Linked DNA regions of Homo sapiens: all the other regions are linked to region 2. The links come from fine-mapping of genetic effects on plasma protein levels. A gene starts in region 2. Each other region holds a variant in brackets. All regions are shown on one strand. Distances are between the middles of the regions.

Evidence for each region. PIP is the posterior inclusion probability: the model's chance that the variant is causal. The UK Biobank Pharma Proteomics Project read protein levels with antibody pairs (Olink). The fine-mapping took linkage between variants from a reference panel, not from the people measured, so its PIPs are less certain.
Region 1: its variant is fine-mapped to the plasma level of the PSRC1 protein (UK Biobank, PIP 0.97).
Region 3: its variant is fine-mapped to the plasma level of the PSRC1 protein (UK Biobank, PIP above 0.99).

Annotation. Positions count from the first base shown.
Region 1 is chr1:109,214,453-109,216,952 of GRCh38, reverse strand. The region is part of intron 1 of SARS1 (seryl-tRNA synthetase 1); the gene reads right to left. Among named protein-coding and RNA genes, the nearest start is that of SARS1, 1.8 kb to the right of the region's middle. The variant G/A (reference allele first, on the strand shown) is at 1,007.
Region 2 is chr1:109,282,084-109,284,881 of GRCh38, reverse strand. It overlaps PSRC1 (proline and serine rich coiled-coil 1), which reads left to right and starts at 1,737. Exons shown (of 8, transcript NM_001032291.3): 1 at 1,737-1,819; 2 at 2,146-2,202; 3 at 2,307-2,364. The coding sequence starts at 2,184. RefSeq lists enhancers at 1,226-1,275, 643-1,368.
Region 3 is chr1:109,260,444-109,263,286 of GRCh38, reverse strand. CELSR2 (cadherin EGF LAG seven-pass G-type receptor 2) reads right to left here. Exons shown (of 34, transcript NM_001408.3): 3 at 2,023-2,245; 4 at 1,659-1,774; 5 at 1,391-1,479; 6 at 843-1,000; 7 at 318-481; 8 at 20-145. Among named protein-coding and RNA genes, the nearest start is that of CELSR2, 12 kb to the right of the region's middle. RefSeq lists an enhancer at 1,981-2,480. The variant T/C (reference allele first, on the strand shown) is at 1,542.

The DNA.
Region 1 (2,500 bases), 68 kb after region 2:
AGTAAAGGTTATGAGGAAATAACAGCTTTAGCCTGGGCATGGTGACTCATGCCTGTAATCCCAACACTTTGGGAGGCCGAGGTGGGAGGATCGCTTGAGGCCAGGAGTTTGAGGCCAGCCTAGGCAACATGACGAAACTCCATCTCTACAAAAAATACACACATTAGCCAGGCATGGTGGCATTGCGCCTGTAGTCTCAGCTAGTCAGAAGTCTAAGGCAGGAGGATCATCTGAGCCTGGGGAGATTGAGGCTGCAGTGAGCTGTGATCATGCCTGGGTGACACAGTGAGACCTTGTCTCAAATTAAAAAAAAAGGAAACAACAACTTCAATTTTCAATGTACAGTAAAAAGAAAAAAAAAACCACTCAGGATAGCACTTTTTGAGGGAGGATAAAATTCTTGGGGTTTGCAGCAGATTTCCAGTTACATGGAAATCTATTTGCTTTGGGAGTGGGGCCAAGACAAATATGCCCAAGTGTAGGATCATTACGCTACTCTGAATTAAAAAGAAGAAATCACATTCAAATCCCTGGAGTTAGAAGAGTTGTGAGTTCCAATGTGGTATTATCACTCCAAGTTATACTGGACTCCTGAGTTCTCCAAAGGAACCCTAGTGGTACCTTGTAAGTCTACAGGAAGACAAATTGGTATAGTTGTAGTGGAGGGCTTGGTGAAGCTTGCTATGTGTCCTCAATTAGGGAGCATGATCTGAGTTCTTAATGTGGCTCTGGTTATAAGCCCTTGCTCAAGGCAATGAGAGAAGAACTCCATCCTCTGATCTGAAGTTCAAGATGTCAAAGAACCTTGATATAAATCTGCCAGTGTCTACCTTGGGCAGTTGGGAACTTGGGAAAAAACATAAATTCCATTTGGATGCAAAGAGAATATTGGAAAGGGTTGTCAAATAGAAAAGAATCAAATTAATAGATGCATTGGAAATAAACTATTGGCCAGGCATGGTGGCTCACACCTGTAATCCCAGCACTTTGGGAGGCTGAGGCAGGC[G/A]GATCACTTGAGGTCAGGAGTTAGAGACCAGCCTGGCCAACATGGTGAAACTCCCATCTCAACTAAAAAAAAAAATTAGCTGGGTGTGGTGGTGCACACCTGTAGTCCCAGCTACTTGGAGGCTGAGGCATGATAATCTCTTGAAACCGGGAGATGGAGGTTGCAGTGAGCCGAGATGGTGCCACTGCACTCCAATCTGGGTGATAATGAGAGACTCCGTCTCAAAAACAAAACAAAACAAAACAAAGAAAAGAAATGACTTCACATTTAGGATTAAGTTTTTTAAAACAATAACATAAACTACATAAACTGCTTTTCATAAAGAATATAAAGTGCCCTGAAGACAGAAAATATTCACGCCTCTAACAAACCTTTATCAAGGCCTTACCAAGGACCAGGTACAGTGCTAGGTACTGGGATTTTATGTATAAATGTGTATATGTATATCCACATATATACTGTATGAATAAAATTGAATCCTTGTCCCTGAAGAACTCACCACCTATCTACTTTTCAGATAAGGGACAAATCCCTCAGATGTGGACATTATACCCAAAAGACTAGCTAACACATTCAAAGTCATTTAGCACTGGCTAAGGGCTGGACTGACACAAAAATCTGATACTCCTGACTTCAGATTCAGTAGAACAGTGCTCAGGCTAGTTTTATCCTAAACAAAAAATGTGGCAAAATTAAATTCCATTGCAACTCGAAACTTCAGGTCAAGTGTGGAATCTCACAATCAAACAAACTACTACAATAGAGGGCCTAAGACATAGAATCAGCACAAAACTCAAGTTAAACAAATATTCTTTTGACATCCAAGATCCTTATAAACAGGAGAAAATCAATTTTCCTAATAGAAATCCATCACACTCTTGGATAGTGGCTGCCTTTGCAGTGTACTGTCATCGACCTAGCTCCCAGATGGTTGCAGACCTATTGCATCAGACAAATCAAATCACAAGTACTTGACAGCATCCGCCCAACCAGCGACCACTCCAGTTAATACAGGCAGAGATTTATGGGCAGATGGTTCTATGGTTTTATTCGGCTTCATGATAGATGCCCGATATGACTCCAAGATCCGGCAGTTCCAGGTTCTAGCCCAACTCTGCCAATGTCTTTAAAGGAAAACGTCCACAAATCACAATTAAACAGCTTCAGTCATTACAATCTTTTGCTCGCCTCCTCACTCCCCTCGCGTTTGATCTACCACGGAAAAGACTTTTCTAATTCTTAAAGGTATGCCCATAGGTCGGGGGATGGCCTTCCGAAAAGCTTCAGGGTCATTTATTTTGGCCAAGAGCGGCCTCCAACGCCCCGAAATGCTTCCGATACCGAAGGAATGAATCTACTGTGTTGCAGAAGTGACGCAGTCTCAGGAGAAGCCTTTGATCCTATCAAAACAAAGGAAAACCACTCTGGCCTTGCTGAAGATGAGAAAAAGACTGGGGGGGACCAAAGATTCGTGTTAGGAAAGCCGCGTAGACC
Region 2 (2,798 bases):
TGGATCTCCTGACCTCGTGATTCGCCCGCCTCGGCCTCCCAAAGTGCTGGGACTACAGGCGTGAGCCACCGCGCCTGGCCTACTTTCTTTACCATCTTGGTTTCTGGCAGATTTGGCCGGCTTCTTTACTGCACCGTTTTATTAGAGGGATGTTTGAGATCTGTATCTTGTGCGGACCTGCTGTCTCCTCCTGTTGTTACCAGAAAGGGGTCCGGATCCAGACCCCAAGAGAGGGTTCTTGGCCCTTGCATAGGAAATAATTCAGGGCAAGTCCATAAAGTGAAAGCAAGTTTATTAAGAAAGAAAAGGGATAAAGAATGCCTACTCCAGAGGCAGAGCAGCCCGGAGGGCTGCTGGTTGGCCATTTTTATGGTTATTTCTTGATTATATGCTAAACAAGGGATGAATTATTCATGAGTTTTCCGGGAAAGGGGTAGGCAACTCCCTGGAACTAAGAATTCCTCCCCTTTTTAGACCATGTAGGGTAATTTCCTGATGTTGCCATGGTATTTGTAAACCGTGGTGATGCTGTCTGGAGTGTCTTTTAGCATGCTAATACATTATAATTAGCGTATAATGAGGACTGAGGACCTCCAGAGGTCAGTTTCATCGCCATCTTGGTTTCGGTAGGTTTTGGCTGGCTTCTTTACCGCATGCTGTTTTACCACCAGGGTCTTTGTGACCTGTATCTTGTGCCAACCTCCTATCTCATCCTGTGACTTAGAATGCCTAACCTCCTAGGAATACAGCCCAGGTCTCAACCTTATTTTACCCAGCCTCTATTCCAGATGGAGTCGTTCTGGTTTGAAGCCTCTGACAAGTTCACTGGTGGCCCGGGCAACATTTAGAAACAACAGAGACAACACTCCTAACAAGTTGGTTTAAGCATTTTACAAATACTGCTTTTAGTTCAGAGGGGGCTACTTACAAACACCCCCTCTAAATCCCCTAAGGGCACACGGTAGAAAACGCCTTCATAATTATCCTCGTAACACCGTAACTGCGAGGACCAACATCCTCCTTTCACAGATAAGCGAAGAGAGGTGAAAAGAGGGCAAATATACTCAAGGCAGCCGCCTCTAAACCGAAACTTGGGTTCTGAGGTCAGTTAAACTTGGGTTGCATTTGAACCTAAGCCTGCCTGCGTGAAAAGCCCGTTGCTTTCTTTGCACCTCAGCTGCCTCAGGTTCTTGAAGAGGCGATGGAGGATGTACTTCTAAGAGAACCTCAATATACCTACAATATAAGTGTTTAGGTGCTCCCTTAACTTGGAAAAAACCCACAACTGAGGAACCTCGGCCAATGCGGCGCCTGCATATTGAGTGCGCCCAAGAAAACGAATTTCCTCCCGTAGAGCGTCGGTTAGCGGCCACGTTAGGCAGCACAACCGTTCTGGAGACTGGGTGCTCGGCGGCCCAGCAGAGGGAGCGGGGCGGGGCGCGAGTTCCATACTCGTGGGTCCGTTTCTTCCCTCCTGGCCAGCCGCGCTCTGCTCCCATCTGCCTACGGGAAAGAGAGTCTCCGCGCACGCGAGCACGCGCACTCGCAGCCTCAACCCTCGGCTCCGCCACCGGGATGCAGTCTTCTGGGAACGGTTCTCCCCCAGCCCCCACCGGCTGACTTCCGGCCGGCAGCTCCTCAGCCCCTCCCCCTGAGGATTCACCAATCACGGTGCGCGTGTGGCTTGAGTAGGTGGGGCCTGAGAGATTCGAAAGGAGCCCCGCCCCCTCGGAGCTGATTCCCGGGACTAGGTTGCGGGAGAAAGCCTGTTGCGTGGAAGATAAGGCGGCGCGGGAAGTGGACACAGGGTGGGCTGGAGGTGTGCTTCGCGTGTGATGCCAGGGGAGTGGAAAGGTGGCTTGGGGAGTGCAGAACCCTGAGGATAGTGGCGGGGAGGAAGATGGGGCGTGCAGGCCGCCCCCAGTGAGGAGAGGCCAGGATGCAGGGCGGCTCCAGGGCAATCTGGGCAGTTGGGGGAGCCCTCCGTATCGTTCCCGGAGGTAGCAGGAGTAGCTGTGCGGGAGGTGCCACTCCTGGGCGCTTGCTTTGCCTCCAGCATGACCCCCGACCCTGGCTTGCACCCTGAATCTAGCTGCGAGCCTTGGGCAGAATGGATACCTGAGGAAAGGTATGGTTTCTCTCCAGCTCAGATCTAACTGGACTCTCGCTCCTGCTGGCTGGACATGGAGGATTTGGAGGAAGGTAAGGAAAGGAGGGAGGGAAGAATGAAAGGGAGGAGTGAGACCCAGCGATGGAGAGCTGCATCAGGGACCCATGACTGGCTTTCATTCTTCTTTCCCCTTCAGATGTAAGGTTTATTGTGGATGAGACCTTGGACTTTGGGGGGCTGTCACCATCTGACAGGTACCAGCCTCTTTATCCCACTTATTTTCCTCTAACAGTACCTCTTTGTCTCGAATCCCTTACTGCTGAATTATTGGCTTGGGTTGGTAACTTAGCAAGGTTTGGCGCACTTGGGGCTGCTGGGCGGCTGGCTGACTCGGGCCTCTATGACACTATTGGTAGCGGGGAGAGAAGGGAGAAGCTGGAGTTAGATTTCAGGGTGTTAAGAAGAAGGATAAGTGGATTTGCTGCATCTCCATCCTGGCATCATTTCTGATGTCCGTAAATGCTAAAGGCCTATTAGGCCCCATAGAACCAGGTATCTCATCGCCCAGAGGCCACATCTCACAGCCAGCATGGGCATCGGGGCCTAGGGTCATGTCCCTGGCTCTGTTGTGGGGCTTTTATGCAGTCTCCCTTGCATAATCTCCTGTTCCCTTTTGCATGGGCATGAT
Region 3 (2,843 bases), 22 kb after region 2:
TAACAGCCGCCCCTCCTACCCTGGGCGCAGCTCTTGCCCCCAAAGCCCAGGGGGCACTCGCAGCTGAACGCGTCCCACTGGTTCACGCAAGTGCCCCCATTGTGGCAAGTGTTGCTGTCACACACGTTCTTCTTGGCAGGGCAGCCTGGAATGGAGAGAAGGCAGCTCAGTGGACCTGAGCTGGGGCTCTAAAGAGAAAGCCTGTGGCAGCAGTTAGAGAGGCCTCTGAGACCCTCCATTCTGGCATCCTCACACCAGGCACAGCCCCTCCTCTCAGCACTGGGATCCCAGCCTGGCTCCACCCCGGGCCCCCATACCAGGCACGGTGCCATTGTTGGCAATGAAGTCAGCCATGTCTATGTGCCGGCTGTCCACCTGCAGGTTCCGCATGCAGCCCACGAACTGCCGCATTCGGACTGGGAAGCTCTCGGGCAGGTCAGGCACCCCGCCTAGTAGCAGGGGCCCCGTCAGATCCAGAGACCTGGGGGAGCAAAGATGGTGGCGGCACAAGGGAGGGCTGGGAGCTTCTGGTCCTCCGCTCGCTCTGCCGCCAGGCCAGAGACACGAACGGCGTAGGCAGGTGTCCAAGAGGCCCTGCAGAGCAGTGCTCAGGAAGGGCGTCACCCCTACCTGGAACTGTTCTTGTCGAACACTCAGCCCCCTCCCCAGACTGCCCCACAGGGCCTTGCTCTGATTCCCCAGTCTTGACCCCATCCCCAGGGCTGAGCAGGGGCTAAGAGAGGCAAAGGGAGAGAGACCCCAAAAGCCCACCCTCTCCACCTTCCCTCCCTGCCTGGCCCTGCCCTCACTTCACCCCATCCCTGGCCCTTTCCCCTGCTCACTTCTTGCTGCCACCCTGGGTGCCCTGGGCAGCACAGGAGTAGTTGCCCAGGACAGATCCGAAGCGCAAGGCCACTCCTGTGTCACAGCCATCCACGGTCACCACAGCCACCTTCTGCTCTGATGGGCCCTGTGGGAGCCCTGTCTGACCCAACAGTGGCTGTGGACAGGAAAGAGCAGAGAAGGGGGACACTGAGTACAGAGCCCACTAGGTTCATGGCCAGCACACACTGGGTGCCTCTGTGTGCACCCACATGCCCAGACACACGTACACACATGCATATACACACACGTGTGCTCACGTGGTTTATGCATGTAACTACCTTCCTCAGTGTCCAAGTTTGCGGCTGCCTAGTGGAACAGAGAGCATCGAGCAGTGCCCAGTGGGGTGGGAATGCCCAGCAAGGTGGCACCTTCCCAGCCGCTCCCTTCCTCTCAGCCAGAAATGCCCTGACCAGCCCACCCAAGCCTGGAGGCAATGCCACTCAGGGCTGGGTAAGCACCTGAGGCAAGAACAGAACCCCCAACCCTCTGTGCCCTCCACACCCACCTTATTGTAGTATTTCAGCTGCACCGTATGCCACTGGCCATCACTGACTCCTCCGGGCACGAATGGGGACACCGTGGTGGTTGACTCCCCTGGGGAAAGGACCAGGTGAGCTGGAATGCCTGACGAGGGCTAGGAATGGCAGGGTTTGGGG[T/C]GCCAGTGGCTGGGGCTGGGCCCAGATTTGGCTGATAGAGTATGTGGCTTGGGGTCAGGGGCTGGAAGACTTGGGGCCTTTGGAAGATGGGCAAGGATGGGGGGCAACTGTGATCACCTGCAGAGAAGGTGAGCTGGACCTGCTCCTGGATCACCTCGAGGGCCACAAAGTCATGCTTCTCATTGAAACGCCCATTGTACAACAGCAACCCGTCGCGCTCCTTTGTGGCAAACCTGAACAGGAGTTGGGGATGGGGGCAGGGAATGGGGTACCCACCTGGATGCCAGCACCCCCGCCACCTAACCAGCGCAGGGGAGGGAGATCTGCTGGCAGAACCACAGGCAACTCCAAGAGCAGACCTGGCTCTGCCGGCAGCCTGCTCCACGCTTTCACTGCCTGACCTCTTACTTCAACCACAGAACAGGAGGCACCTCAGATGCCCACCAGGCCCACTCCCCACCCCCAGTGCCCAGCCACTCACGAGAGGGCCAGGGTGAAGTGGAAACGCTGGCGCAGGCCGCGAAAGGTGATGAAGGAGTGGGCGGGGAAGCTGCGCGTGGTCACCTGGCAGTAGGGCTTCTCGAAGTCTCCAGATGGGCAATCGCACTTGAAACCGCCCACCAGCAGGTTGACACAGGTGCCCCCATTCTTGCAGACACCCGGGGTGCAACGGCCTGAGCGAGCACTCACCTCACAGTGCTCACCTGGACAAGAGGAAAGGCAGGTGAGTACCAAGTACCTGAGGACAGGAGGGGAACTGAGACCCCCCACAACCCAGTGATAGCTCCCATGGCCTCCCGTGACCCTCGTAATACTCCCCAAACCTCCCAGGCATCCCCACTTCCTCTCGTGTGCCATCTTCTCTGAGACCTATGGTCCCCAGCCCTTCATGGGCACCCTGTTTGGCTCACTGAGCCGCTCTCGCCACAGCTCCACGCACTGCTCCCCTGCAAGTTCCTCGGAGTCCCCAGCACCTTCCCTACCCCATTTGGGTTTCATAAGCACAGGCCTGCTGGGACACTTGGTTGTAAGGCCCGGATCCCGGGAGCCTTCGATGTCACACTACCAAGCACACCTGGGGGTGTCCTGGCCCCCAAGAGGGTAAATGTGCACAAGCAGATGGGCCTGCAGGACAGCGGGAGGGCTGGGAGCCTCCCTCCTCCCTCCTTCCCACTGGTGCTTTTGTCCCTCTCAGGCACTGAGATCAGTTTCCCTCCCTGGGGATGGGACCAGGCTTCCACTTAGATTTGTCTGGGTTATGGAAGAGTATGAGAGAGAAGCTGGGGAGCCCCCAGGAATGGG